Homo sapiens: one gene and its partners. The protein of the gene in region 3 interacts with the protein of the main gene of each other region in a pairwise test. Each region holds a gene or a part of one and is shown on either strand. Other genes may lie near its edges. The genes, in order: KIAA1328, N4BP3, CCDC17 and MTUS2.

What was found.
Region 1: the proteins of CCDC17 (region 3) and KIAA1328 interact in binary tests that used the Homo sapiens proteins (3 or more experiments, as listed by UniProt).
Region 2: the proteins of CCDC17 (region 3) and N4BP3 interact in binary tests that used the Homo sapiens proteins (3 or more experiments, as listed by UniProt).
Region 4: the proteins of CCDC17 (region 3) and MTUS2 interact in binary tests that used the Homo sapiens proteins (3 or more experiments, as listed by UniProt).

What each region holds. Positions count from the first base shown.
Region 1 is NC_000018.10:36,831,304-36,839,619, reverse strand, and holds part of KIAA1328 (protein hinderin), read right to left. Parts: exon of another isoform or gene 6,232-8,316; intron 5,418-6,231; exon of another isoform or gene 5,347-5,417; coding exon of another isoform or gene 5,301-5,346; coding exon 5,265-5,300; intron 4,387-5,264; coding exon 4,244-4,386; intron 1-4,243. UniProt on the Homo sapiens protein: Competes with SMC1 for binding to SMC3. May affect the availability of SMC3 to engage in the formation of multimeric protein complexes.
Region 2 is NC_000005.10:178,116,055-178,124,370, forward strand, and holds part of N4BP3 (NEDD4-binding protein 3), read left to right. Parts: exon of another isoform or gene 1-3,499; 5' UTR 3,500-3,529; coding exon 3,530-3,859; intron 3,860-4,123; coding exon 4,124-4,645; intron 4,646-5,043; coding exon 5,044-5,298; intron 5,299-5,419; coding exon 5,420-5,947; 3' UTR 5,948-8,316.
Region 3 is NC_000001.11:45,621,055-45,629,604, forward strand, and holds the start of CCDC17 (coiled-coil domain-containing protein 17), read right to left. Parts: upstream 3,001-8,550; 5' UTR 2,856-3,000; coding exon 2,682-2,855; intron 2,599-2,681; coding exon 2,503-2,598; intron 2,386-2,502; coding exon 2,163-2,385; coding exon of another isoform or gene 2,064-2,162; coding exon 1,901-2,063; intron 1,781-1,900; coding exon 1,697-1,780; intron 1,614-1,696; coding exon 1,495-1,613; intron 1,295-1,494; coding exon 1,187-1,294; intron 942-1,186; coding exon 823-941; intron 682-822; coding exon 584-681; intron 431-583; coding exon 227-430; intron 60-226; coding exon 1-59. Other genes in the region: GPBP1L1 (vasculin-like protein 1), read right to left, coding at 7,202-7,354, 8,522-8,550.
Region 4 is NC_000013.11:29,501,524-29,506,948, reverse strand, and holds the end of MTUS2 (microtubule-associated tumor suppressor candidate 2), read right to left. Parts: intron 3,957-5,425; coding exon 3,743-3,956; 3' UTR 1,002-3,742; downstream 1-1,001. UniProt on the Homo sapiens protein: Binds microtubules. Together with MAPRE1 may target the microtubule depolymerase KIF2C to the plus-end of microtubules. May regulate the dynamics of microtubules at their growing distal tip.

The DNA of each region.
Region 1 (8,316 bases), on a different chromosome or scaffold from region 3:
AAAAGACAACCAAGCAGGCAAAGAAGCAGAAAAATACAGCCTATAATTAGGAGAAAAATTGCTCAATTGAAACCTATCCACAAATGACTTGGATGATAGAATTCATAGTCAAGAATATTGAAACAGTTATTATAACTATGTTCCATATGTTCAAGAACCTAGAAGAAAGCATGTCAAGTAGCGACATGGAAGATGTAAACAAAAATAAGAGACTGAAACTGAACTTCTAAAGATAAAACTACATTGTTTCATATGAAAAACACACTGGATGAGATTAGTGGCAGATTAGACATTGCAGAAGGTTAATGAATTTGAAGACATAGCAACAGCAATACAAACTATCCAAGGATAAACAAAAAAATTTTTTAATGAAAAAAATATGAACAGAGGATCAGAGAGCTGAGAGGGTAACTTCAAGAGGCCTAGTATTTGTGCAACTAAGGTCACTAGAAAGAGAGGGAAACAAAAATATCTGGAGAAACAATGGCTGAAACATTTCCCAATTTGATGAAAACTATAAACCCACAGTCCCAAAAAGCTCAACAAACCTCAAACAAAAGAGATACTTTAAAAATTACTCCAAGGTAGGATGGGCATGGTGGCTCACACCTGTAATCCCAGCACTTTGGGAGGCCGAGGCGGGCAGATAATGAGGTCAGGAGTTCGAGACCAGCCTGACCAACATGGTGAAACCCCATCTCTACTAAAAATACAAAAATTAGCCGGGTGTGGCGGTGCACGCCCGTAATCCCAGCTACTCAGGAGGCTGAGGTAGGAGAATCACTTGAACCTGGGAAGCGGAGGTTGCAGTAAACCAAGATCGTGCCACTGCACTCTAGCCTGGGCGACACAGCAACTCTGCACCTCAAAAAAAAAAATTACTCCAGGGTATACTATAACCAAATTGCTCAAAACCAGTGATAAGAAGAAAATCTTAAAAGCAGCCATATTTAAACACATACACACAGAAAAATAAGGAGGAATAAAAATGACAGCCAACTTCTTAAAAACAATACAAGCCAGGCAACAGTGCAGCAACATCTTTAAAGCACTGAATGAATAAAACTATCAACTCAGAATTTTATAACCAGCAAAAATATCTTTTGAAAAGGAAAGAGAAATAAAGACTTTTCAGACATACGTGAGCTGAAAAAATTCTTTCCTAGCATACCTGAACTAATGTTAAAGGAAGTCTTTTAGGAAATCTGGATACACGTGAAAGAATGAAAACACCAGAAATGGTAACTACATGAGTAGATTTAAAAGACTTCTGTTGCATTTGTAAAATTTCTTTAAAAGGCAATTAAAATAAAATGCATCCAAAATGGAATAAAGGCATCCAATAAGAATATGTGAACTATCTCTATTCACAGACAACTTCATCTTATATAGAGAAAATGGTAAGGAATTCACAAAAGAACTATTAGATTAGAAATAGTTTGATAAAGTTGCAGGATACAAGATCAATTCACAAATCAACTGAATTTCTATATACTAGCAATAAACAATCCAACAGTGAAATTCAGAAACAACTGTGTTTCTAATAACATCAAAAAGTATAAAACATTTGCTGATTCTATAATGCCTATGGAAACACTGGGACCCAAAATAGCCAAAACAATCTTGAAAAAGAAGAAGTTGGAGGACTTATACTTCCTAATTCCAAAAATAAAAATATAAATCAATGGAACAGAATACAGAGAGTCCAAAAATAAACCCTTACACTTATGGTCAACAGATATTTGACAAGGGTGCCAAGAAATTCAAAGGGGAAAGGACAGTTTTTTTAACAAATGGTGCTGGGACAACTGGATATCTACATGCAAAGGAATAAAGTTAAACTACCACCTCACCCCATATACAAAAATTAACTCAAAATGGAATGAGAACTAAATGTAGGAGTAAAACCTTTAAAATTCTTAGAAAAAAAATAGGCACAAATATTTGTGACCTTGGATTAGGCAACAATTTCTCAGATATGACACCAAAGCAAAGGAGACAGAAGAAAACACTAGATAAACTGAACTTCATCAAAATTTTAAACTTCTGTGCTTCAAAGAACACCAATAAAAAAGTGAAAAGGCAATGCATAGAATGAGAAAAAATATTAGCAAATAATGTATCTGATAAGGGACTTGTAAATGGAATTTAGAAAGAACTCATAACTTAACAGTACTAAGACAAATAACTCAGTTAAAAAAGGATATGACTAGATATTTGTCTGACGAAGATACACAAATAGCCAAGAAGCACATAAAAACATGCTCATCATCATTTAGTCATTAAGGAAATGCAAATCAAAATCACATTGAATTACCACTTCACACCCACTAGGGTGGCCATCCTCAAAAAAGATGGACATAAATGTTGGCAAGAATGTGGAGAAATCTGAATCCTCATACATTGCTAGTCGAATGTAACATGGTGTAACCACTTTAAAAAACAGTTTGGAATTTTGTCAAAAGGTTAAACATAAAACTACACGACACAGCAATTCACTTATAGGTATATACACAAGAGAACTGAAAATATATGTCTACACAAAAACTTGTATATGAATGATCATGGAAGAATTATTCATAATAGCTAGAAAGTTGAACATGTCCATTGACTGATAAATGGATAAACAAAATGTATATTCAGACATAAAAAGGAATGAAGTAATGATACAGAATAGATGAACCTTGAAATCATTATGCTAAATCAAAGAAGCCAGTCACAAAAGGCCACATATTATGTGATTTCCTTTTATATGCAACATCAATAACAAGCAAATCTATAGAGACTGAAAGCAGATTAGTGTTTGCTAGGGGCTGAGATGACTGGGGAATGAGAAGTGCCTAATTGGTATGGGGTTTCTTTCTAGAGTGATAAAAATGTTTCGAAACTAGATTGTGGTGATGGATCCACAACTCTGTGAATATAAACACATACAAAATCAAAATAATAAACTGTACACTTTAAAAAGGTGAATTTTATATGCAAATTATATCTCAATTTGAAAAAAAAGAGAGTTGACTAAAGCAAATGTAATATGTATTTTGGGGTCTGTGCACATAAGTAAAATGTATGACAACAATATCAAAAAAGTCAGGAGGTGAGAAATAAAGTACAGTGTTGAAAGGTCCTTAAACTATAGGTAATGTGGGAAAATATCACTTGATAATAGGCTATGATAAATGAAAGATGTATACTATAATCTCTAAAGAAGCCACTGAAATAATCCAATCAAAAGTTATAGCCAATAGGACAAAAATATGAACTTAATCTAAAAGAAGGCTATTGTTCAATGTAAAACAAATCAACCATTATGTGAAAAAACATTTTTTAACTTTTTTTGATAAGAACTTGCAAATTCAACTATTCACACCCCAGTGTGAAGTGGGTACACTGGTACAAGTAACGTAAAGTAGGCCTTTTGATTCAATCACAGTAAAATCCTGTAGTAATAAATGAGGCACTGGAAATATCTTTGAGAACATAATTCACAGACTGAAAAAAGTTTTCTATAAAAGGTCTGATAGTAAATGTTTTTAGCTTGTGGGCATGCAGTCTCTGTAGCAACCCTGCTATTGTAACACAAAAGCAACCATAGACAATTATGTAAAACAATGAGCACAGCTGTATTCCAAAAAACCTTTATTTATAAAACAGGCAGAAGGATTTGGTCCACAGGTTATAGATTCCAGAACATTCATATACAAGTTTTGTGTAGACATCCTAGTGAGTGTGAAGTGGTATTGAACAACTCTGGTTGCAGAGGGAAAATATAACAAAAATTAAAGTAAAATAAACTGGTCAGATAGGACATGTGCCAAAGGAATGCACCGATACTATTACTATGCCTAGTCATTGATTTGTCCCTCATCTTTACGAGGGTTCATCTATCAAATAAATTCACAAGAATAAAAATCAAAAAGGATGCCTAATTAAAAAGCAATTCTCATCAGTTTGATTTACCAATGCCACACAGATCAGAATGTAGTTCTTTTGAGACATATCAAGATAATACATTATCATGGCTAATGCTTACAGCAAGTCAGATGTTTTGGAGCAAAACCCTTGAGTAATCCAGATAATTTAGGCTCAAACCTGGCATCATCAAAGGATCCTGGAATCCTCTGTATCTTTTAAGAATGTTTGTTGATCACCTAGTATACTTTCAAAGGTTCTTCTACCCTTTTTGGTCAGCACTCATAAAGACTGGAGAGCAAGGAAAAAAAAAGACGAAAAAAATACTAACCTGTTCATCTACTGAATCTCCTGTGCCTTTTAAGGACTCCATGGAGATTGAAGCATCAGTCACCCTGGAAGTCTTAAGTTTAACATCAGCTTTTGGACTCATCAGCTTGTGTCTTGATCTGACATTTCCTTCAGCAGAAATTCCTAAGGATTTCCATTAAACAAGATTTCAAAATTATACCTTATTATCTTAAACCCTCCCCCATCAACTCCTTCCTTGGAATCCTCTACTTTAAGGGACCTGATGGAGGAAACTCTCTTACTTTATAAACTTAATTTTAAAGCTCTTAATATATGAATCATAAAAAGAATATGTTTTAAAGAAATACACTAAAGATTGAATTGAAATTTGTTTTTATATTTATTTTTTTAAAGAGACAGGGTCTTCCTATGTCTATCCAGGCTGGACTTGAACTCCTGGGCTCAAGCAATCCTCCCACCTCAGCCTCTGGAGTAGCTGGAACTACAGGATCAAGCAACCACATCCAGCTTAACTGAAATATTTGTAAAGGGTACTGTAAATATTCATAAGTCACATTAAAACCAATAAATTACGATATGCCAAATATATGTTAACTTAGGGGAAATCAATGATATTTTTCACCCTATATAATGAGGGTGCCTTCAATAGTTGCTTTACTACCATCTAGTTACAACCATTAAACTTGAAGTGCCTCTTACATATACCCTGTATCAAGCAGTAGTCACACTTTTATTTGAAATATTAAATTTGGCTATCATTTGTAAAAGAAAAAATAAGAAAAGAATCTTTTGCCCCTTGCCACATGAAGTGTTCTACAAGTTCATTAAAAGCTGATTGGGCCAGCCAATCCCAAAGATAAGCCAGTATTTCAAACCTTAATAGGGTTATGACAAATATTCAAAAAAAACAAATTTTAGGTTTTGATGTACTGCTCTGCATTCAGTTATTTATACCCGCAACATTGTTCTAATAGCTTTATTTTCTTCTAACATTTAAGGACCAAAGTAAGCTTCCCAAATTTTAACATAGAAAATCATACCTGGAACGTATACTACTGATTGTTCTTCATCAGAAACTACGCAGGAGAACATGAAGGAAAATACAATAATATTATCCGGCATCCAAATGCTGCTTCTGTTCTGTATACCTCTTATAATTCATAATTTCTTTTGACCTGGGAATTTGTAACTAACTTTTAAAAACAAAGTTAGAAAGCAAAGTAATTGAATTAAAAACAAAGTTAGAAAGCAAAGTAATTGAATTAAATGTAGCAAAATTAATATTCTCTAAAAGTTCACCTTTATATATTCACAACTACACATCTTATAAAAATCTTGGAAGGTCTTGTTCCATGAAACTTTTATCCACTCTCAAGTGGGTTACCCTGCAATATATACTCTACTATTAGGTTCCTTTCCTTTTGTAAACAAAAACTTAAGTGCTCCAGTTTGGTCATTACTGAGGAACTGACAATTCTGAAGAGTAAATAATTTCAAGATAGACTTTAGCTTTGAAGAACAAACACTGAGGGCAAGTCAATCATGCAAACACAAAGACATTATTTATTCTTCTACAGTGTATTCATAAAATATCCCAAGAAGCCCTACTATTTAAAAAGTAGAAGAAATTTAAGACAAAAAGAACTATTTTGAATTTCAAAAGGAGAAATTTAGAAAGGCTATGATTATAACACACTGTTTTCAACTGTCACCTTGATCCAACTCAACTTTTCCTCTCCCAGGATTATTGCAATAAGCTCCTAACTGCTCTCTGTCACTTCTGTGCATGTTCCCTTAACAGCCTATTTTTTCACACAGTGGTTAGAATGATCATTTTAATAGTTATGTCATTTCTAATTTAGATTAAAAGCCAAAGTATTAACAACAGCCTGCAATGCTCAAGATCTGATCCCTGTAACTTGTTACATCTCTGATCTCACTTGCTACTATTCCTCTCACTCATTCCTGGCTTTCTTATAATTGTTAACAAGCTATGCAAGCTCCTACCTTATAGCTTCTGCAGGTATGATTTCTTCTACCCAGGAAGCTCTTTCCTCAAATATCTTCATGGCTCACTTTAGGACTTATGTCATATGTCATGTCATGTCACCTTCTGATTGAAGCTTTCACTTCCTAACCATATAGGTACTTGAAATTGCAAAACTCTCTCTTCCCACAACCTACCTACCTCCCGCTACTATCTGCCTCTTTCCTGCTTTATTTTTTCTCCACAGCACCAATATCATTGAACATAGGCCAGGTGCAGTGGCTCACGTCTGTAATCCCAGCACTTTGGGAGGCCGAGGTGGGCATATCACGAGGTCAGAAAATCGAGATCATCCTGGCTAACACGGTGAAACCCTGTCTCTACTAAAAATGTAAAAAAAAAAAATTAGCCGGGCATGGTGGCGGGTGCCTGTAGTCCCAGCTACTCCAGAGGTTGAGGCAGGAGAATGGTGTGAACCCAGAAGGCGGAGCTTGCAGTGAGCTGAGATGGCACCACTGCACTCCAGCCTGGGCAACAGACCGAGACTCTGACTCAAAAAAAAAAAAAAAAATCATTGAACATATATTTTCCTTATTCATGACCTGATCTCATCTCACTAAAATGTAGGCACCAAGAGGGTAATGATTTTTGTTTTATTTTGTTCAGTGTTGTACCCTCAAACATAAAAGAATGTCTGGCTCCATCTATGAAAGAATAAAATTGGTATTGATTTAATTTTATGAGGTGTTGTCCAACAACCTTATATGTTATATTTCTGTGATTCTAAATATGCAAACAAAACTTTTTTTTTTTTTTTTTTTTGAGACAGAGTCTCGCTCTGCCACCCAGGCTGGAGTGCAGCGGTTTGATCTCAGCTCACTGCAACCTCCACCTCCTAGGTCAAGCAATTCTCTGCCTCAGCCTCCCGAGTAGCTGGGATTACAGGTGCCCGCCGCCACACCTGGCTAATTTTTTTTGTAGTTTTAGTAGAGACGGCCGTTTCATCATGTTGGCCAGACTGGTTTTGAACTCCTGACCTTGTGATCCACCTGCTTTGGCCTCCCAAAATGCTGGGATTACAGGTGTGAGCCACCGCAAGCGGCCAACAAAACCTTTTACTTTCAGCTACATCCATGACAAATTTATTTTCAAATATATAAAACTCTAAACAAACTACTTCAATATTTTTAATAACAATATTTGAAATTGCCTCTATCCTTTCTAATAATTTGTAATGTATTTTCATCTCATTATATTAAGAACCCAAATATTTACCTCCTTCAAATCTAGAATTTCCCAACAAATGTATATTTTATGGGGAAGTCAAACAGACACATTATATACCAAATGTATAGTGGGCCTACTAGTGGGTCATTTCTAGATTATTTATAATACCTAAAACAATGTACATGCTATATAAATAGTAGTTAAATTGTACAGTTTAATTTGTATTTTTTTGTGTGCTATTTCTTTTTTTTCTCAAATATTTTCCATCCACATTTGAATGAATCAGCAGATACAGAGGGCTAACTGTAATTAGAAACCCAGGCAGAAGTGGTAGAGAGGAAGATGCACCTCTATCCCAGACCTCCAGGATTTGAAGGAAATAAGTTCAGTACTGCCCATTCTACTCTAATCTGCTGAGTTTTGCCAGCAATACATGTATATGTAATTATTATCAACCACAGAGACTTTCTGGGCTAATATATTATTTTTACCACAACATACAGTCTTTGTTTCCATTTGAAAACTCAACAGCAGAGATTATACTGCAATGTTTTGACCAGGTCACTTGCAGTTCATATTTTTTAATATCAAGTCCATGATATTGCTAATGGTAATACACTTGAGTGCATTTAAGCAGTCAAATTTAGGTACTGCTGAAACACTAACTCATTCTGACATTACTAGGAACTGTAATGAAGGACAAAGGCAACTTAAACTGAAGGAGCATATTTTGCTGGAAGATTTAACCCATAACATGACAACACCACACACTCATTGTTTACAGATGAGGTACTAAAACGTTCCTTGTGCAAAACAGCACTGCTGAATCATACTGTGCAGGAGATGTATAACTCACAACAACAACAATAAAAAAAAAA
Region 2 (8,316 bases), on a different chromosome or scaffold from region 3:
CTTGTCCCCTACCCTTCTCTCCACGACCCGTGCAGGGTCCCCGGCTTTTTGCTCTGATGTTCCAGTGAGGCTGCAAGGCACTTGCTGTCCTCCCTCCCTCCTCCCCCACCAAATCCCCTCCGCCTGCACAGCTGCCCTGCCCAGCTGCCCTGCCCGGAGCAGGCAATCCCTGGGCTTCCAAGCAACAGGAAGGAAGGAATGTATGTGTTGGGGGAGGGGGTGGAGGTAGGATGGACCCCTTTAGGAAAAGAGACTGTCCCCACTCTGTGACATACGCAGGGAGGAGTGTCCTGAAAGCTGGGGGCCCCCGCCCTGCTGGGGGAGCTGATAATCCAGTCAGTCAGCCAGGAGGGGCACAGTGGGGACGGTGGGGGGCCTAAGGAGAGACAAAGGGAAGGGGCTGTCTGCTGCTCCTTCACTAGCCTGGGGGCTGGGAAGGACACTAGGTCATCATGCCACTGGGCTGCTCCTGCTTTGTCAGTGTGTCCTGTGGGTGACCTTGTGCACAGCTGTATGATTGTGTTTGCTGCTGGACGTGACCGTCTGCACCGTGTCCTCTAACATGGGCTCTCTGTGCTGCTGGGTGGGGCTGACATGTGGCACACCGTGGCGTGTGTGGTTGTATGCGCTGTTGCGGCCGGTGGCTACCTCTAGCTCAGGGACTTTCCCTGGACCTGCGATGCCTCGTGGGGAACCTGGGGGTCGGTTATCTCCTCGAGACAGGAAGTGAGCATCTGCCCACCGGAAGCTGAGGCGGTGTGCATTTGGGGTGAGGTGGGCGTATTTGGCACTGCTGCCAACGTCCCCGCCCCCAGGGCCACACAGGGCTTACATTTCATAAGCCCTTTCCCCTCCATCTCTGACTGTCAGTAATCCTTTGAGGAAAGCCGGGCAGGCGGGGTCTTTCCCACTTCATTTTTTTTTCCTTTTTAAAAATAAATAGAGATGGGGTCTCGCTATGTTGCTAAGGGTGGTTTCAAACTCCTGGGGTCAAGTGATCCTCCTGCCTCAGCCTCCCAAAGTGCTGGGATTACAGGTGTGAGCCACCATGCCTGGCCCTTTCCCGCTTCAGAGATGCAGAAACTGAGGCATGGCAAAAGGCGGAGCATTTGTGTCTGGGGTCCCCTGGAGAGAGTGAGGGCAGGCTGGAGAGCAGGTCTCTGCTGTCCCCTCCCCAAGAAGCAGCAACAGGAGTTGAGCGTGCTTGTGGACAAACCACATCTCTGGCTGGATGGGCTTGTCGTGGCAAGGAGGTATCAGATGAGGAGGCAGGATGCTTCCATTCTAATACTTTTGGCTGTAGGGACCAATCCTAGGTCCCACTAGACATTGGGCAGCCATGACCAGCTACGACCTTGGGCAAGTCACTTCACCTTTCTGAGCCCCACTGACCTTTAAGAAGGGTCAATAGCTGGGCACAGTGTCACGCACCTGTGTTTTTAGCTACTCAGGAGGCTGAAGTGGGAAGATGGCTTGATCCTAGGAGTTCGAGGCTGCAGTGGGCCATGGTTGCACTACTGTAGTCCAGCCTGGGTGACAGAGTGAAGAGCAAGACCCTGTCTCAAAAAAAAAAAAAAAAAAAAAGAAGGGACAATAACTCTGTCACAGGACTCAGCAGGACCCGTATGCAGGGCCAAGTCGCTGTAGGAACCCATCCCCTGTGATTCCTTACCTGGATGCATCTCCTATGTAGCCTGCAACGTGCGTTCTCAGGGGCTGGGCTGGGTGGGGTGTGCAAACCCGGATTCGCCCCATCCTGGGTTTGGGGGTTGGTTGGGGGAGAGCTGAGGTCATTTTTGCACAGGGTGAGGTGAGGCTGTGGGGTTGGGGCAGGTCCCCCTCCCGGAGAGCTTTGTCTTCCACAAACACAAAACCTGGAAATGGTTGAGGAAGATGGAACCTCCTAACGACCATTGTTCGGGGGCAGGAGTGGGTGCCCGGAAGCATGGGTGGTAGTAGGGGACCCACAGCTGCAGCTGGCCTGCTGGGCTTCTGTTCGAGAATGGGAGCAGCTGCTCAGGGGTGGGAGGCAGAGAAGGTGGCATTTGTTCACTCGGCCAGACCTTTCTGCACGCCCGCTCCATGCTGGGCACTGGGCTGTGCAGAGGATCCCCAGGGGACTAGGTACCAGCCCTGCCTCCAGAGTGTGTGGCCCAGCACAGGTGGAAGGTGGTCCGTCAGCCTAGTCCCTTGGTGATGTTTGTGTGCCTGGCTGAGCTCGGCTCCAGCCAGCCTGTTGACCCTGGCTGTGGCCCAGGCCCTGAACTGGGTGCTCTGTCATGTTATCCCACCCCATCCTCCCAGCATCCCAGTGATAAGTGTTATTGTCGCCAGGGTGTGTGTGCGGAAGTCCAGGCTCACTGAGGTTAGTGGCTTGGCCGGGGTCACACACCGATTGGTTCCGCCAGGGTTAGGATTTGGGACCCACCCTGCCGGGTGGTGGGCTTTGGAATAAGAGCATATACAGGGGCTGGAGTGAGTCCAGCTGCCCCTTCCCTCCTCCACCCACCACTGCCCAGACGGGAACACCTGTCCCGGAAACTGTGGCCATTGTTCACGTCATCCTTCCTCCTTTTGGGCCCTTCCTGTTTGTATCCCTCCCACTGTAGCCCCCAACCCTCCCCCCCATGCCAGATGTTTCCCTTGGGGAGCTTTGCCCTTTGCAGGAAGAGGGCCTGCAGGGGTTACCCCTCTCCCATGGGAAGGAGGGTCTCACTGGCCTTGGGTCTCTGTGCCTTCTCCCCACCCCACAGATTTGGTGGGGAACATGGCAGGAGGGTAAGCAAGGTCAGGTTCAGCCAGGCTGAGTTTTCTTTTTTTTTTTTTTTTGAGATGGAGTCTCCCTCTGTCGCCCATGCTGGAGTGCAGTGGTGCGATCTCGGCTCACTGCAAGCTCTGCCTCCCAGGTTCATGCCATTCTCCAGCCTCAGCCTCCCGAGTAGCTGGGACTACAGGCGCCCACCACCATGCCCGGCTAGTTTTTGTATTTTTAGTAGAGATGGGGTTTCACAGTGTTAGCCAGGATGGTCTGCGTTTCCTGACCTTGTGATCTGCCTGCCTTAGCCTCCCAAAGTGCTGGGATTACAGGCGTGAGCCACCGCGCCCGGCCAAGTTTGTCTTCCTTAGCCCTGTGCGGGCCCAGTGCTGGGAGGACGGCTCCTGTCCTGCTGCTTCCAGGCCTATCCCCTCCCGGTACTTCTGAATCCCACACAGGCCCCGAGGTGGAGCTGGCCCTTCGGTGCTCGGCTGGGGCACCATTGCTCTTCCTTAGACTCAGTCCAGCAAGTGACAGATGGGCAGGTGGCTTTGGGGCTTGTACTTCTTTCTCTTGCCAGTCTAGGGATCCTGTCCCGGGGTTCTCTCTTGGACCCACATCTGCCTTACCTGGGCCTGGGCAAGGTTGTGGGGAGCTACAGGGAGCAAGTACCTTGTTTTCAGGCCCCAGGGAAGTTGGGCAGCCAGTGCTCACCTGCCCCTAATGGAGCCTCCCAATTCCCAGAAGCAGCTGCCTGTACCCTGTTGAAACTTCATGGCCACAGCCCCAGGCCCTGCTGGCATTGCCATGGGCAGCGTGGGCAGCCTGTTGGAACGGCAGGACTTCTCCCCTGAAGAGCTGCGGGCGGCACTTGCCGGGTCTCGGGGCTCCCGCCAGCCTGATGGGCTCCTCCGGAAGGGCTTGGGCCAGCGTGAGTTCCTCAGCTACCTGCACCTCCCCAAGAAGGACAGCAAGAGCACCAAGAACACCAAGCGGGCCCCTCGGAACGAGCCTGCCGACTATGCCACCCTCTACTACCGGGAACATTCTCGCGCGGGTGACTTCAGCAAGACCTCGCTGCCAGAACGGGGTCGCTTTGACAAGGTGCACCTTTGCCCATGCCCCTTACAAGGTGTGGGGAGGGTGGGGTCTCCTTGGAGACCCTGATGTTGGGATGGGGTGGGGACGGGGCATGCTGAGATACGAAAATCGTGCTATGGGCTGGCCTGAGGTTTGTTCACTGCCTCCTGGTGGCACGTGCCCCGCGGTCTCAAAGAGGATCCCTCAGGGGCTGTGAGAGCATCAGGAGGTAGAGCAGGCAGCTGCCCAGGTCTCACACCTGCCCTCTCTGCCCTCTCTTCCTGGCAGTGCCGCATTCGCCCCTCAGTGTTCAAGCCTACGGCGGGCAACGGGAAAGGCTTCCTATCCATGCAAAGTCTGGCGTCCCACAAAGGCCAGAAGCTGTGGCGCAGCAATGGCAGCCTGCACACGCTGGCCTGCCACCCGCCCCTGAGCCCCGGGCCCCGGGCCAGCCAGGCCCGGGCACAGCTGCTGCACGCCCTCAGCCTAGATGAGGGCGGCCCTGAGCCCGAGCCCAGCCTGTCCGACTCCTCCAGTGGGGGTAGTTTTGGTCGCAGTCCTGGTACTGGCCCTAGCCCCTTCAGCTCCTCCCTTGGCCACCTTAACCACCTCGGGGGCTCCCTGGACCGGGCCTCTCAAGGACCCAAGGAGGCTGGGCCACCAGCTGTGCTGAGCTGCCTGCCCGAGCCACCACCCCCCTACGAGTTCTCCTGCTCCTCTGCCGAGGAAATGGGAGCCGTGCTGCCCGAGACCTGTGAGGAGCTCAAGAGGGGCCTTGGCGATGAGGACGGCTCCAACCCCTTCACGCAGGTGAGGGAGCCCCTGCCCTGGAGTCCTGTTCTGTGCCTCAGCACTGGGGTACAGGCCAGAGAGAGGGGCCCCAGCCAGTTCACCCACGTGGCCGTGGACACAAGAGAGCAAGAAAGGGGGAGCTGGCTTGGCTTCCTTCCTCTGCATCCCAGGTGGTGGGGATGTCATGTCACTGGGGGTCCTTGCCTGGGAGTTGTGTGGGAAGGAGAGAGGCTCCCTGGGAGGGCCATGTGATGGGGACACCTCACCCTGGAGGGCATCCCGGGTTAAAGCGCATGTGTGGCTGGGTCCTGTGGTGTAGGGGCACAGGATATGATCAGTGGCTGGAGTATCAGGTGGAGCTCTGAGTCGCCTCTAGGGGGCAGGGCCACGGTGGATGCATCTCTTCCCCTTGACAGGTGCTGGAGGAGCGCCAGCGGCTGTGGCTGGCTGAGCTGAAGCGCCTGTATGTGGAGCGGCTGCACGAGGTGACCCAGAAGGCTGAGCGCAGCGAGCGCAACCTCCAGCTGCAGCTGTTTATGGCTCAGCAGGAGCAGCGGCGCCTGCGCAAGGAGCTGCGGGCTCAGCAGGGCCTGGCTCCGGAGCCTCGGGCCCCCGGCACCCTCCCAGAGGCTGACCCCAGTGCACGACCAGAGGAGGAAGCCCGATGGGAGGTGAGAGATGACACAGGGCTCCGAGACTCTCCCATCTCCATTGCCGGTCCCTTCTTCTGCCTGCCCCCTCCCAAACCGGCTCCCCACACCCTACTTTGCTTGCGTCCTCCCCATCCCCCAGGTGTGCCAGAAGACAGCAGAGATTAGCCTCTTGAAGCAGCAGCTGCGTGAAGCCCAGGCGGAACTGGCCCAGAAGCTGGCGGAGATCTTCAGTCTGAAGACACAACTTCGGGGCAGCCGGGCACAAGCCCAGGCTCAGGACGCAGAGCTGGTCCGGCTGCGCGAGGCTGTGCGCAGCCTGCAGGAGCAGGCCCCTCGGGAGGAAGCCCCAGGCAGCTGTGAGACTGATGACTGCAAGAGCAGGGGCCTGCTAGGGGAGGCAGGAGGCAGCGAGGCCAGAGACAGTGCTGAGCAGCTGCGGGCTGAGCTGCTGCAGGAGCGACTTCGGGGCCAGGAGCAGGCGCTGCGCTTTGAGCAGGAGCGGCGGACTTGGCAGGAGGAGAAGGAGCGCGTGCTGCGCTACCAGCGGGAGATCCAGGGAGGGTACATGGACATGTACCGCCGCAACCAGGCACTGGAGCAGGAACTGCGGGCACTGCGGGAGCCCCCCACACCCTGGAGTCCCCGGCTCGAGTCCTCCAAGATCTGAGGCCAGCAGAGCGAGCTGACAGCAGCAACACTGTCAGAAGGTGCCCTGAGACGGCCGGCTCAGCCTTCCCTTGCACTGGTTGGGGTGGAACCTGCAGAGGCCAGCCCGGGGCTGGGGAGGCGCAAGGAGAGGAGGGATCCAGTGGGGCCGTGGGCTGGGTAGGGTGCCTTGGCAGGAGCCAGGACAAGGCCCTCCTGGCAGAGGAGCACCTAGGCAGGGCCCAGCCCTGCTTCCTGGAGTGGATGTGGCCCAGAGAAGGAGGCTGGGGGATCACCAGCCCCAAGGTCCCGAAGGGCAGGTCAGAGGGAGAGAGGCTGGAGACCTGGGCTGGGGCCTTCCTCCAGGGAAGGAGGCTGGGGTGGGAACACTGGCCTCCCCCAGAATAAAACCATGTTTTCTACCAGAGGCTCAGAATACGCTGAGCCTGTGACCAGAGGATGATGGATGGTCGGGATTGAGGCTGTTGACCTGGGCAGTAGCTCCTCCCATGGCCAGTGGTCAGTGGGAGGGTGTGCCCTGCGCCTGTCTGCATGGCCACTGGGCATGTGTGTTGGGAGCAGAGGAGTCCTACTCCTTGCCTCAGCCCCACACGGTTCCTTAGCTGCCGTGTGGGCTGAAATTCCTTTCTTTAGCACCAGTGGAGTTTTCAGAAGGAACAACACCAGGGAATGCCAAAAAAACAAAGGGCAAGTCAACCAAGGCATTTTGAGAACATGAAATGTCTTCTTGGTGGGAAGGCTGGGCCCCAGGAGTATCCACAGGCTCAGGCCATGCCCCTCCCCGCACCCACCTCCTGTCTCCCTCCCTCCCTCCATAGGAGTGGGGGGCCCCTAGAAGTGCTCTGCCTCATTCCCTGTTCGTAGGAAGGTGCAGGAGAGGAGGTGGGCAAGCTTATGGGTTTCTTGGTAAAGAGCCTTTACCACAGCAAGGAATGGGAACATTTCCCCATCAGCAACGGGGCTCTAGGGCATTATTAAGTAGGGGTGAAATATGATTGATTTGCATTCTGGAAAGCTCTCCCAGGAGGAAGCATTCCCCACCCCACCTTGCCTCTGTCCTGCGCTGGGCTCCAGGACGGTCAGTCCTCCCGGATCCCTGCTCTCAGCTAAGGCTGGTCCCTAAAACCCACACCTGCCTTTGGTCTCTCAGAGGCCTGGCTTGCCCTCTGGGCCTTTGCTCCCCCGCTGGGTGCCCGGCCTGGAACACAGGTTCTGTCTGGCTGTGTGAGTGGCGTCTCTCCCTTCCTTTGAGGGAAGCTCAGCTTTCTTACGCGCTCATCGTTGGACGGGCTGCCATGCATTGCGTGCTTACTGGGCGCCAGGTGCTGTGCTGGGCCCTTGTGAGTGTGGGGGCACAGGCTGAATTAGATGAGCTCCTGCCGCAGGGGGCCCTGCACACTGATGTCAGCTCACCAGTCTCTTCCCTGACAGGGCAGCTCAGGGAACTTCTGAGAAGTTATCTGCAGAGAGCCCCACCTCACTCCCTTTGGCTACCCTGGCCGTGCCTGGCAGCCCCTCAGGCCCCACAGGTGGGTCCTGGTTGTGAAGTGGAGTTAGTGCACATGGATGTCAGGGGACGGGTGTGAGGCATGAGCTGGGGGGGCCCCCTTTTTCAGGGCAGAGAATGAGGCGTGTGCACTGTCTGCTGTGGGGATGGTGTGTTTATGGCCATGTAAGTGGCAGGTGTGTGTAAAGATGTGCTTGTGGGTGGTGGGTGTGTCTGAGGGGGTGTGTTTGGGAGCCTGGCCTCCAAAAGCCAGTGTCTGGGTTGGAGACAGTGCAGGCCCCTTCTTGGCCCCACCCTCTACCCCATTCCTTCCTGTCAGCCCCAGTCTGTCTTGGCACTGGCCAGGCTTGGGTGGAGCCTGTGTCCCAGACAGATCCCCTAGGCCTATCTGAGACCCATACAGGCCCACACCTGAGCTCCTGTCTGCCTGAGGAGGGAAAGGGGGAGTGGCCAGGTCAGGCAGGCCAGTCGTCTACACACCCCCTTGGTACCCATTCCCATTTCACAAACTCCTCCAAACCCCAAACCCCAAACGGAAATCTCTGGGACAATGGCTCCTCCAGAGGGCCCCTCAGAGCCAGGTGCTGGCCAGATGCCTTGATCACAGCCTCCATGGCCAGGGGCCTGTCAAGCCAGGGGCCCACACACCTGGTGCCAGGGTCCACCTTGGTATACCAGCTCGGCAGAACAGTTCCCCACCCAGCGATTAGGGAGCTGGGCTGGCCAGTACAGCCAGTGGGGAGTGGGTGGGAGGCACCAAAACTTGGCAGCTGTGCCAGAAACCAAAGCCAGGCCCAGATGTAGGGGGAGGGCACGAGAGCTGAACCTGAGCCTGGGGCGTCTCGGAGCTGGATCCCCGTCAG
Region 3 (8,550 bases):
CTAGCCCCTGCCAGACCTGCAGCTCACAGACCAAAGATACTGATGATGAGGGTGGTAGTCTGTAGAATAACCAAAAAGCAGTGTCGGAAGCCAGAGCTACAGTCCCTTTCTAGGACTTAGCCCTTTAGAGCCAGCGGCCTCTGTATACAGATGAGAAAACTTAGCAGAATGGTGGATAAGCCTCAACTGTGGCAGAGTACCAGAGTCATGATCCCCACCTACTGACCTGGGCACAGGCTGCCTGCTGGCAAGGATGGCACAGTTGCCCATGGGCCCGGGAGCAGGAGGTGGGGGCAGGCAAAGGGCTGGGGGCAACGCTGTGGTCCTTCCTGTATCCCGTCCATCGCGTGCCAAGCCAGTCCTTAGTTGCACCCAAATCCAGGAAGCCTCAAGGCCCCGCAGGAAATCATAGAAAATGACCAGGCCAGCCCTGGGGAACACAAGTCTTAGCACAGAAATACCCAACTCCTTTCAACCTCCCTCCTCTCAGGCAGGTCCCTAACCCTATCTGGTCCTAGTGGGCTCCCTTAACCAGCAGTGCTGGCCAAGTCACAGAGGCTGTCGAAGGTGGCACGGGCCTCACCCAGGATCATAGGGTGCAGGGCCCAGCATGTCCGATGTGGGCAGGAGGAAGTGTGAGTCCAGGCCCAGGTTTCTGGTCATTGTTCCAGGAAGCTGTGGCTGTGGGGAAGAGAGCTGACTCCTCCAGAAAGCCTTGTAGCTGCTCATGTTCCCCCAACTGCTCAGAGCAGAGCTGCCTCCAACCTGTTCCCCCAACCCACCCCGTGTCCTCACAGCCTTTGCCCCACCCAAGAACTGAACCTCCGAGAAGCCTGGAAGTGGTGGCAGCGGTGGTGCCACCGGTGGCGGGAGGAGTGGGGGATCTCTCCTCCCCTTCGGTTGTAGGCTGGCATCCCCCAGGAGTCGCAGATCCTGGGGCCCTAGGAGCAGAAGAGTTAGGGTGCCCCTAAGTTGGACAAAGCAGGTAATTAGCTGAGATACCCCTCCCCCAAGAGTTGGGCCCACAAATGGGTTGGCGGAGCCCTGTGGATACAGGGATACACACGTGCAGACATGAACTAGGGGAGTCACAAACACGGGTCTTGTTCCCCATGCACTGTCTGCCTGAGCCAGGCCTGCTGGGGAGAGATAAGTGGGATGGGATAGGGTTGGGGTGCTCACTGACCCAAGGGTGCCCGACCCCTCTGCATTTGCAAGGCCAAGATTTCTGCCTCCAAGCGCCGGTTTTCAGCCTCCACTACTGGAAGCTCCCCTGAGGTGGCACCTGCCCTTCCTGCGATGAACAAGTGTGACCTGTCACCTTTGACCTCTGGTGACTGGCCGCGTCCGGCTGTGAGCAGCTCTCCAGCGCTAAGGCTCTTCGGATAAGGCTGGACTTGTCAGCTCACATGCCATCCACAGCCACAGGCCCTCCCTCGAGTTCTTTTCTCCTCCCAGGACTGACCACCGCTGGCGAGAGGCCCTCCTGTTCACCTCTGCGGGTCTGCGACCGCTGCAGCTCCAGTGCAGACGCCTCCACCTGCAACTGCCATATCTGGCCCAGCACGCCGGGGTCCCGGCCCCCGTCTCGAATGTAGGCCTCCCGCAGCGCCCTAGGGAGTGGGGAACAGGAAGGCCGTCTTTCCAGAACTGCTCAGCGCTTCGCCCTATGCCCATCTCCGGCCCCGGCTCTCACCGGATTTCGGCAGCCAGAGTTCCCGGGTTGGCCTTTTGCACTGGAGAATAAAGTTCTGCCTCTCGCCGGGAGCTCAGCGGGTTCCTGGGGTGGCAGGCGACGCGCAGGGAGACGGTAACGCATCAGAGGCCCCGGGGCTGCAGCCAGCCCGCCCCTCCCACCCCGGAGCCGCATGTTCCGGGGATCCGCTTAGTCGGGTCTCACCCTGGCTCCGCCTGCAGCTCCTGAATGCGGGCCCCCAACACCTCTAGAGCTCCCCGCGTCCTCCCGGCCTCAGCTTGTAGTTCTCGAATCTCCTGCTCCAGGCCGAAGAGGCGGGACATCCCGCCCCGCGTACAGGCCACAACTTGGAGGCGTCGGCTCAGTTCTGAGGGAATGCGGGCCGAGTCAGAACCGGCCCGAGCAAGCTTAAGCCAAACGGCGAGGGCAGAGGAGGTCCTTGGTCCCCGTCCCCCATCTCCTTCACCCTCGCCGCGTAGCTGCAGGGCCCGGCTCTGCGCTTCCATCTCCGCCACGCGCCTCGCGCGAGTCCTGAACAGCGCCCGCAGCCGCTCGCTGGGGCTTCCCACCGCCTCGGACATGGGACTCTGAGGCCGCGCCTCGGAACGTGTCCAGGGCCCCGCGAACACCCTGGGGACCTCTGTTATCCAGGGCCGCATTTCCTGTAGGGATAGCCGCAGCCACTGCACCTGGAGGTAACAGCGATCCGCGATCTCTGCGTGGGCAGAATCTGTCCCAAGTATGATCTACAGGTTTGGGGAAGACGCTCAACGTTTTGAGCCCTGGGGGAAGGTAGGTAGCTCTACCTCCTCTGTTAACCTCTTTAGAGCAGATCTACTGGCCTGCTGGTCTGGGAGGCCCTGGGGTTCTTGTGGCACGCCCTGGTGTTCTTGTGGCACAACCTGGGGATAGGGTGTAGTAGGATGAGGAATCATAAAGGTCCTGGCTCCTTTGAATCCCCACCCATGGCCATGGAGGCCCTTACCGCGGCCCGCTGGGGTTCAGTGGCAACTGATGCCTGTGCTCCAAATGTCATCTCTTGGGTCGGGTGGCCAATGCAGAAGCGCTGAGTATGGGTGGCTAACAGAGCTGAGGAGCGGAAAACCATGTCACAGGTCCCACAGGGCAGGAGCGCAGGCTCCCCAGAGTGGGAGTCCATGGGATGGGACCCGTTTCCTGAAACCAGCCAAGACCTGCAGAAGGGATCAAGGGCAGGGGAAAGGCAGAGGAGGATGAAAGAGACATAAAGCCAGAGGCAGAGAGGAAAGGCCGTGTCTATTAGGTCTGTGAGATCTTCAAGTTTGTTTGGGGAGAGCCTTAGCTCCCTGGACAGCAACCACAGGGCTGGGCAGGTCAGGAGAATGGGTGGGGAAACCTCGGCCGTTTGGGAGGAGCCACTGGCTTGAAAAAGTGTTACAAAGTCTGAACGTGGGCAAGTCTCTAATTGTAGCTTGGTTTCCCTGACTATTAATAAAGAGGAAAAAGCAGCTGCCTCCTAGACTAGGCTGGGCCCTTATCACTTACTACATCATTGGTCATTTAATAGCCTCTAAAAGGCAAGTGTCATCTTTTTCATTGCTGTACTCCCAAGTGGATGTAACAGTTTGTACCATTCTCCAATCCAGAGAACTACCTGGCAAAGGAGGCACTCTGACCTTTCCAGCATTCTGCCTGGAAACCATGTCGCACCAGGGATAGCAGTCTCCCTAACTCCCATTCCCTGATTCCTCATTTTTCAGCTGTAGACGAAGATAATCAGCACAGCCCAAGAAATGAAAGCTGTGGGCGAACAGAATGAATCTATCAGATGAGGGAATCAAGTCCAGAAAAAAACCCCTTCTCTCTCCCAAGATTGGCCAGAAGCCAGAAAGACCCTGAACTGTTGGTGAAATTCTTCACTCCACTCCCACTCCCAAAATATATGGAGGAGCTCTGAGGTGACCGCATATTTCTTAAGAAACCCTCTTTACTTTTTTTTTTTTCTTTTTGAGATGGAGTCTCGCTGTCGCCCAGGCCGAAGTGCAGTGGCGCGATCTCAGCTCACTGCAATGAGCTCTGCCTCCTGGGTTCACGCCATTCTCCTGCCTCAGCCTCCCAAGTAGCTGAGACTACAGGTGCCCACCACCACGCTTGGCTCATTTTTTGTATTTTTTAGTAGAGACGGGGTTTCACCATGTTAGCCAGGATGGTCTTGATCTCCTGACCTCGTGATCTGCCCGCCTTGGCCTCCCAAAGTGCTGGGATTACAGGCGTAAGGCACTGCGCCCGGCCAAGAAACACCCTTTTCTCTTCTTTTTTTGAGACAGTCTCGCTCTGTTGCCCAGGCTACAGTGCAATGGCACGATCTCGGCTCACTGCAAGCTCTGCCTCCCAGGTTGACACCATTCTCCTGCCTCAGCCTCCCCAGTAGCTGGGACTACAGGCACCTGCCACCACACCCGGCTTTTTTTTTTTTTTTTTTTTAGACGGAGTCTCGCTCTTTCGCCCAGGCCGAAGTGCAGTGGCACTATCTGGGCTCACTGCAAGCTCCGCCTTCCGGGTTCAAGCCATTCTCCTGCCTCAGCCTCCCGAGTAGCTGAGACTACAGGTGCCCACCACTGTGCCCGGCTAATTTTTTTTGTATTTTTAGTAGAGATGGGGTTTCACCGTGTCAGCCAGGATGGTCTTGATCTCCTGACCTTGTGATCCGCCCGCCTCGGCGTGCCAAAGTGCTGAGATTACAGGCGTGAGCCACTGCGCCCAGCCTTATGCCTGGCTAATTTTTTGTATTTTTAGTAGAGACGGGGTTTCACAGTGTTAGCCAGGATGGTCTCGATCTCCTGACCTCGTGATTCCCCCGCCTCGGCCTCCCAAAGTGCTGGGATTACAGGTGTGAGCCACCATGCCTGGCCGAAACTCCCTTTTCTAAACAAGACAGGGACTTAAGACATTTCCCTACTCAGTACCTAAAGCCAAGGTATGACCCACCAGCAGCAAGTTACAAAGTGTTCAAAGTATGTCATCTCAGTTCAGCTTAATTCCAACTGACATAAAGAGTACATTTTTAGAAATATGTTCTCAGAAAACAAGTAAATGGCAAAGCCCAAATCAAAACCTCCTTTTCAACAACTAAGTTTGTCCCAATTTTCAATGGTTAAGACTTTTGACTGGTTGACTTTACAATGGTGCAACAGTGATAGGCATTCAGTAGAAATACTACTACCATTTTTTTTTTTTTTCCCTCAAGAGACAGCTTGTAGTTCTCTAATCTCCTGCTCTAGGCCGAAGAGGCGGGAGCAGGACTGTCATCCAGGCTGGATTGTAGTGGTGCCATCATGGCTCACTGTAGCCCTGAACTGCCTTGGAATCAAGCAATCCTCCTGCCTTAGCCTCCCAAGAAGCTGGGACTACAAGTGTGTGCTACCACGTGGACCTGTCTATTTTGTTTCTGTTTTTGAGACAGAGTCTTGCTCTGTTGCCCAGGCTGGAGTGCAATGGTGCAGTATGGGCTCACTGCAACCTCTGCCTCCTGGGCTCAAGCAATTCTCCTGCCTCAGCCTCCTAAATAGTTAGGATTACAGGTGCTTGCTGCCATGCCTGGTTGTTTTTTTTTTTTTTTTTTTTTGAGACAGAGTCTCACTCTTTCTCCCAGGCTGGAGTGCAGTGGCGCTATCTCAGCTCACTGCAAGCTCTGCCTCCTGGGTTCACGCCAATCTCCTGCCTCAGCCTCCCGAGTAGCTGGGACTACAGGCGCCCGCCACCATGCCTGGCTAATTTTTTGTATTTTCAGTGGAGATGGGGTTTCACCATGTTAGCCAGGCTGGTCTCGAACTCCTGACCTCAGGTGATTCACCCGCTTCAGCCTCCCAAAGTGCTGGGATTACAGGCGTGAGCCACGCCTGGCTGGACCTGACCATTTTAATGTTTTTGTTTTTTATAGAGACAGGTCACTGTGTTGCCCAGGCTGGTCTTGAACCCCTGTCCTTTTCTTACATCACTGTCTATTCTCTCCCCTACTGGGCTGGGCACTCCTTGCATCCTCAGAGCCTTGCATAATGCCTGGGACATACAACACGGGCTTAGAAAGTATTTGTTGAATGGGCCGGGTGCGGTGGCTCACGCCTGTAATCCCAGAACTTTGGGAGGCCGAGGTGGGTGGATCACAAGATCAGGAGATCGAGACCATCCTGGCAAACACGGTGAAACCCCATCTCTACTAAAAATACAAAAAATGAGCCAGGCGTGGTGGCAGGCGCCTGTAGTCCCAGCTACTCAGGAGGCTGAGGCAGGAGAATGGTGGGAACCCGGGAGGCGGAGCTTACAGTGAGCTGAGATCGCTACTGCACTCCAGCCTGGGTGACACAGTGAGACTCCGTCTCAAAAAAAAAAAAAAAGTATTTGTTGAATGAAAAAACCTGCTTCCTTCACTAGCCATTCAGCTACCATCGTCCAACTCTCCCCCAACCCCCACTCCAAGTTCTTATTTAGTAGGAAAACAGAACAGACTTCCCTTAAAATACGTACACTGGTAAATACATGGGCACTAAAAAACAGTTTCAGGAAAAAAAAAAAACTTGGTTTCTGACTTTATTACTGGTAATTTATTGCACAGGTTTTTCTGCATCAAAAAAGTATCTGCTAAAATAGAGAAACAGTTGTGTCTGAATTCACATTTCCCCCCAACTTCTAAAAATATTTCCCCTAAAAAAGAATCCACTCATCTAATTTTAAAGAAAATATACTTCTTACACAAGACAATCCAAACTGATGCAAAATATTTATTCCAAGTTAGTTATTTTATGCAGTAGTTTCCCCCTCGAGACTTGTGATAACCACATCTTTTAAATCTGTAAATAATGTTATCAAAATAATCTTAATCTTTGAAATCTCACAAAAATTTATATTTTACAATCCACCCTGAATATCAAGGCTGCAAGAATAACACAACATTTCCTATATCCAAATATTTTACAGCTGTACCCAAAAAGGAAAAAGAAAAAAAAAACAAAAAAAAACAACCAAAAAAACCCACATATGCTTGGTTAAGGGCTAAAGTTACCCGAGCAGCCAAAAATAAAATAAAATATCCAAATTATTAGCATTAATTTAATACAATTATAACTTCAATAGTCACTTTGTCATTGACAATGATTGCTTGATCACAGGGGTGAGTGCCCCAAGGGCTGGTAGTAGAAGCTGTTGCTGCAGACCAGTGTCTCCTCTTCCCTGCACTGCCAGCTCCTACCTGTGCATCGCCCCATATATACTGGGTGTGTATGTGTGTGTGTGTGTGAGTGTGTTTAAAAAATCTGTCCCACCACACAAACTTCTCTCTATAAAGCAGATAACAGGGAAGAACAATAACAAAAGCAAAACAAGCCAATTGCTCTCTCTTTGGGATATGATTATTTCCCTTGTGAATGAAGTATTCAACAACATAAGAAAAGGAAAAGAACGATTTCTTTTGTATACTCCCTAAACACACAGAGTTTACTGGGTCAGATTTAACTGTGAGCATTTATATGCCTACTTCCAGGCATCGTCATCTGATGTTTCACTGCTACTGGTTTCGGTGTCTGAGTCCTCAAACTCTGCTTTGCAAGTGCTTCTCCAAGGGGAGAACAGACTGGAACTGCGGCTCTGCAAGAAGCCATTCTTTCCAAAGCCATTTCTTCTCAGCTATGGTTAGCATGGGAGAGAAAGAAAAAAGAAAAAAATATCAATGACTGTACTGACCCATAAGCCCTGGGAAAGGCCAGGCCTCAATTCAATTCTAGGTAGAATGTGGGGCGGGGGGTGCTTCTAAGAGACCCTCTGAGATCTCTTATACCAGTACTTTTCAAATTTTAATTTACGAGTCATCTACGCATCTTTCAAAAATGCAGATTCAGATTCAGAATGTCTGGGATGGGGCTTGAAAGTCCTTATTTCTTTTTATTTATTTATTTTTTTGAGACGGAATCTCGCTCTGTCACCCAGGCTAGAGTGCAATGGCACAATCTTGGCTCACTGCATCCTCCGCCTCCTGGGTTCAAGCGATTCTCCTGCCTCAGCCTCCCAAGTAGCTTGGATTACAGGCGCACACCACCACGCCTAGTTAATTTTTGTATTTTTAGTAGAGATGGGGCTTCACCATATTGGCCAGTATGCTCTTGAGCTCCTGACCTCGTCATCTGCCTGCCTCGGCCTCCCAAAGTGTTGGGATTACAGGCGTGAGCCACTGTGCCCAGCCATAAGTCCTTATTTCTAACAGAGTTCTAAGTGGCAAGGTCTCACATCAGCTTGTGCCATGCCCCTTTTAAGGACTTGGCCAATTGTGCTGTAAATACAGGCCACCAGAAGTTCAAGGATTTTTATAGAAACCCCATTTGTCTTGTTCACCCTAAGATCTAGCAGTGTTTTATTCAGAGAAAGAATCCAAGCAACTGCTGGATAAACTGACACAAGCTATTTAGCTTCTTAGCTCTGGCCAGAGGACCAGGAAACTACAGTGCAGATCAGGAAGCAGAGGAAGGTGAACCTGCTTCCTTAAAGACCAAGAGCTCAGACCATAGCTCTGGAACACAGCCTTGTGGTTCTGATAAGGAGTTAGAGCTGTTAGGATGAAAGAGCATACTATTTTTTGGAATCTGCTAATCACTGACACTTGGTTTTTGTATATAACACTGGGGATCCTTATTTCCCAGGCAGATTTAGGGGCCCCACTACATTTCTACTAAGGTAATCCCCCCCCCCCCCACCCGATCTTTCTCTCACATTAAACTTGCTCCCTCAGGGCAAGAACTGTCTTGACTCCTTATTCTCCTGGTTACTAACTGGTCTCTAGGAAGAAGGTTTACAACATACCTGCTCTGTCTTCATGTGGAACTCTTTGA
Region 4 (5,425 bases), on a different chromosome or scaffold from region 3:
CGTAACTCCCTTCTTGCTAGGGGGATGCAAGTCTCCCACGAAGGGAGAGCCAGCTCTCAGGGCTCCTTGGCACAGAGGAGGTCAGTGAGTGAGTTGACTTCCAGAGTCTCCTCTGCCTACTGCAAATGAGCCGTGGAAGGGGACACCATTCTCCATGGACAGTGGAAAGCTGGCTCTAATCTCACCTCCTGCTCGTGTTGGTGGCTGCCACCCATTTGCTCCTTTGTTATGTGGAGGTGCTGCCAGCTGCCTTGTTTACCGCATAAGGTGGGGTAAGGACAATGGGAGGGGGTCATTATGAAAGTGAAGGGTGCTCAAGACACCCCAAAAGAAACAAACAGGTTAGGACACGTGGCCAGATAGATAGATTATTAATAACTAGATTGCCATCGATATACTGGGATGACCCAGAGGTGGCCCTGGGGTGTTCCCTGTGAGGTCCGGAAGTGAATTTGTGTCTCCAAAGGGTCTGTTGTTCACTACTTGTTCAGGAGGGACTTGCTGATCTCGCTGAAATAGCTGCCACTCCCACAGACCCTGCAAAACCACCACAGGGAACCTGCGAACCCAGCTGTCTCCCTTGTGATGGTGCCAGACACCTGTGGGACACTTCGAGGTCCAGCTGGCTAAACCGGCTGCAGCCCAAACTGAAGGCCATCGGGATGGGGGGAGCAAGCACTTTCAGGTTGAAATGAGTGAATGACCTTTTATGTCCTCCTTCCAGCCAACTCCAGCGCACCCGGCCTTGCAGAGCAGAGGCACTGAGCTCCCAAGTCCAGGGGAGGGGCTGCTCAAGCCCCCAGGCTGGAGGGGTGGGCGCAGGGACCTGGGACCTGCGGAGTCAGGGGAGAGGGGGTCTCTACAAGACTTCTCTCACGGACCATCACCCAACCCCGGCACACACAGAAAAGGGGTCCAGCCTGCAAACGCCACCCCCCTTGCCTCCCTGCCTGGGATCCCCAGCCTGAGAGGGACAGGTCTCCAGTTACATCAAGTAGATATCGCAGAAAGTCCCTCAAGTTTATTTTAATAGGCTTTAAACACAAATATGCAACACAAACTGTAGGGGCAGGAAAAGGGATGTTGTGACCCCATTCATTCAACTAATCACGGCCAGGGCTGCCCCCACCCCCATCCATTCTGACATCCAGCCAGAACCTTGTCCCAGCATGTGGTGGGCAGGGGCGGCGGTCGGGGGGCAGGCCGCCCACGCATCTCCCAAATGCCACGAAGAGACAGGTGGTATCTGGTGGGTCTGTCTGAGGCAGGTGCAGAGGCTGCAGCATCCGAACGTGGAAACGTCGCTCCAGCCTGGAAGGGGACAGAGGCAGACGCCACGTGGAGAGAAATCCGAATTCTGATGGTGTGGGGGGGTGGAAGAATTGAGAAGGAGGCACAGCAGCTGCCGCCCCATGTGTTTCGGGAGCGGTGATGGCTCAGATGAGGAGCCATACATGATGGGTGTCCGTAACAAAAGAAAAAAAACAAACAAACCACGAAGCCAGGGCCACGTGGAAATTAGCTCAAGTACCCAAGGTCAGGGCAGGTTAGGGCAAAGCTCTCACCGAAGTCCACCTAATGAGGAATTACTTAGTGCTAACGATGCTACAACTCTGACCACAGCAGCCTAATACACTGTACCACGTTCTAGCATCACACGGAAGTCAGTATTGCTGTGTAACTGCATTTAGCAGGTGCGGCTATGTAAGCGGTTCCTAATTCGGACAGCTAAGCTGTAACTGAATTTGTGTTTGCAGGTTGTGCCTGCTACTAGAATAAATACTTGTGTATTTAGTCAATGTGGCAAGATCTACTCTAATGGAATGCCCAACTCAATATCACAGTATCATGCAGAGCCACTAAAGCAAAGAGAAATGGTGGTGTTTCCATGTGGATTTACTGTGTACGTCCCCAGAAGGAGCAAGACCCTTGGAGGTTGGCTGGAGATGCACCTGAGGCCCGGAAGCCCAGCGTGGACTCATCCTAGGGCCAGGGACCATGTCTGCCTTCACGTTGGCAACACGTGTGCCGAGCAGGCGTGCCCTGGACAAGCCGACCCCGTCCGCGGGCTGTTTTCTTCCCCGTTCCATGGCTCCGGCCCCTGCAGGACCCCCTCATGGTTCTTCTCGCCTTGGGCACGCTCAAAGACAGGCCTGTGCTCAGGACAATTTTGGGGGGGTCTCAGGGAGAAAGTGCAGGGTCTTTGTCACATACAGGAAACAAGGGCATCATCATCATCACCATATCTGTTAAAACTACTTCTTCCTTTTGTGTATCATGCTCCTAATCTTCCACACCACTACATGAGTACTGTTCATATCCTAATTCTACCATTTTAGAGACAGATGCCAGTCCAGGAGCTGGTGCCCCCTGGCTGGCTGTTTCACTGGGCTCCTCTGTTTGGGAGAACCTTCTGGGTCTAAGATGGGAGCACGGTCAGCAGCAGCGTTGCCTGATCATCCAGCAGGAAGTGCAAGTGGGTTTCTGGGTGGTCGTGTGATGATCTAGCACAGCTCAGAACTGGTCCCCCGGGACAGAAATGGTGTTTTTTTTTTCTGGAAGCCCCTGCTAGAACCCCTGAGCCATCTCAATGTGCAGTGAAGGGGTTGAGTTGTAGAACCAAACTGAAGGGGGGCTGCTAGGAAATGGGGGCCTGAGGGTCCTATTTCAAAGAGTTGATCATTTACAGCATCGCATCAGAGTGAACCACATGGAAAGCTGGAGTGATGTTCCCCCTCTGTGCCTGGTCAAAATACAGACCTTGGCAGCAATTTCCTTCATGAGGATGGAGCGCGAATGGGCACAGTCATCTGCAAGGTCATCCTCACTCTTACTCAAAGGTCATGCTCTGCCATGTTTTCCGGAGGGTGCAACAATAGCTTAATGACCGAGTCTGAGATGCCATTTAGGAAAAAAGCAAAACTTGTGTTTACAAGACTATCAGAGATGAGTCACTGTCATGGGTAACATCTGCAAAACTGCTAAACCCCCTTAGGGTTTCCCACTGCTCTCCCTTATCCGCTCATGACAGGAGTATCAATAATTAAAACTTGCGAATGGAATAATAGTGATCTCACATCATGTTGACTGAGAAGCTGATTGTTCCAAAGGCAGTTACCGTTCACAAATAGCTGGTGTTCGTGTTAAAGAGAGTACCACTTGGTGGTGAGTTGAAAGGCGCTTCTTCTCTGTATCTTTTTTTTTTTCCTTTTTCTATTTTGGGTAGAAATATTCCTGGGAAGCTAGATAGAAATGCATTTTCATTTCCCAATAATTCTTAGGCACAAGTTAGAAAACTGCTGACCTTCACTAAAATATGTCAGCACTTCATGTTATAAAAAATGAAATTCAGAACCGCAGCATGTGTATATACGTATATCTAAATATACACACATATCGGTGCAGTACACAATGATTATTCAATGTATATTGAAAACTGAGCTTTTTGTAACTAACCTGAAATTCTGCAGTGAAAGTTCATTGCTCAAGAACAATTGCAAGTGTCTTTCTTTTGGCTCTAACTATGGTAAAACGTTTGCACATCAGACTTTACCATTTACACATTCCTAAGTGCCGACACCAGGGCAGTCTTACACGGGGATCAGAGGAGGACGCGCCTAGGATGCATTCGCAGCTACTGAGCATGCGCACAGGGCCAGCTCCGGCGGCACCGGGTCGGTGCTCCCTCAGGGTGGAGACCGGAGGACGAGAAGCCGGAGCTCCCGCAGGCCGTGTAGTGGCGTCATCTGGGTGTTGTGCTGACTCTGGCCGGAGAGGAGGGCCCCGAGGAGGAGCCGCGGTAAACGGGAGATGTGGGCGAGAGTTTAATCGGACTGGTCGGGTCCCCAGTTTGGAGCTTCCAAAGCAGCTCTTCATTGGTTCGGCTCAATCTCTTCTTCTCCTGGGTTTCCTTCTCAACATATTCCTGGAGGTTAGCATTTTCCTCCGACAGCTGTCTGCATGGGCACAATGACAAATAAGTAGCAATCATGCTAGTGGACACTGAACCTGAGGTCAGGACAATGGTGCAGGGCAAAGGGAGGAGGCCATGATGACCGCAGGGAGAACAGGGACCAGGGTGACCCAGTGACCAAGAACTTTGGTTGAATCATGATTTCCATTTGGCCCAATGACACATCTGTTCCCAGAGCCTCTCTGGCCAATACCCATCATCCCACAGGCCCTCTGCCCGGTCAGGGGAGGCACTGGCTGTCCACTGGACAGAGCAAAGGCCAGCGACTGAAAGGAGGGAAGCGGAGAGCTGGAGTGGGTATGCTGCCCGGAAGCTCCGAAAGGAGAGACAGCCGCGCAGCTGGCAATTGACAATGACAACAGCACAATAGCAGTGAAGAGCCGCGGGCCTTCCTGAGACTGCCAGGAAGCTGGGGGTGCCTTCTCCTGGCCTCCCTGCCCCAGGCTTGTGCCTCCACGATGGCAGGTGTCCTCCCCTGCTGGAAATGCTGCTCTAGGGGTCTGTGTCTGCCTGCTAGACTGGGAGCTCCGGAGGACAGAGGCCAAGGCTCTGCATGCTGAACTCCCAGCATCCAGCTGGTGCTAGGCACGTAACAGATGCTCAGTTAATGTTTGCCGATAAAGGCTGGTGGGTGAAAAAATGAATCCGAATTGCTTGCTTTGTTGCATTTTTGAAGAATGACAGCACCTCTGAGGAACTGACAGGAATAAGTACATATGCATTTTAAAGCTGGACAGACTGAAGTCCAGAAAAATCACCTCTGTTGGATAAAGTCTGCACTTGCTCTGCTGACAAGGGCACCTTTGCAGCTTCCGGAGCAAAGAGAGCTTGCTGCCCCCAGCACAGCCTTTCCTATGTGCCTCTGAGGTGAGAACAAAATGCCTGCACTAGGGGCTTAGTTATGGGGGCAATGGCTGTGTGTCCATTCATGCATGTGTGCAAGAGCGTATGTATGTGAGAGAATGTACATGTGAGAATAAGCATGTACATGTGAAGAAAAGCATGCACGTGTGAGTGTGCAAACAGGGCATGTGAATAGGTGTGAGGGATTGTATGAGTATATGAGTGTGTGCGTAAGTGTATGAGAGTGTGCCTGAGTGGGAATATGCAAGTGTGTGTGTGAGTGAGCAGTGCCTGTGTGAGTGCATGTGAGTGTATGCATATGCACGAGTTATGTGTGCAAGGGTAACACACCATGGGTGAGCATTGAGGAGCCTAGCTGAGTTGAGTGGGCAAGGGTTCAGGCCTGGGTCTTACTGATATGGCTCAGCCCTCATGGGAGAGCAGCTGATGAAGCCAAAACCCTGCTTTATCCCCGCATTGTGCTGTGTGAGGGAGGAGCCTGAACACCCTTCCTTGAAAGCTGGGGCACCTCAGAGCGTGGCCCCACAGGGACAGGCGAGACCTGGATGGAAATTGTGAATTTCTGGAAGTTGGGGTATCAGCCAGTGG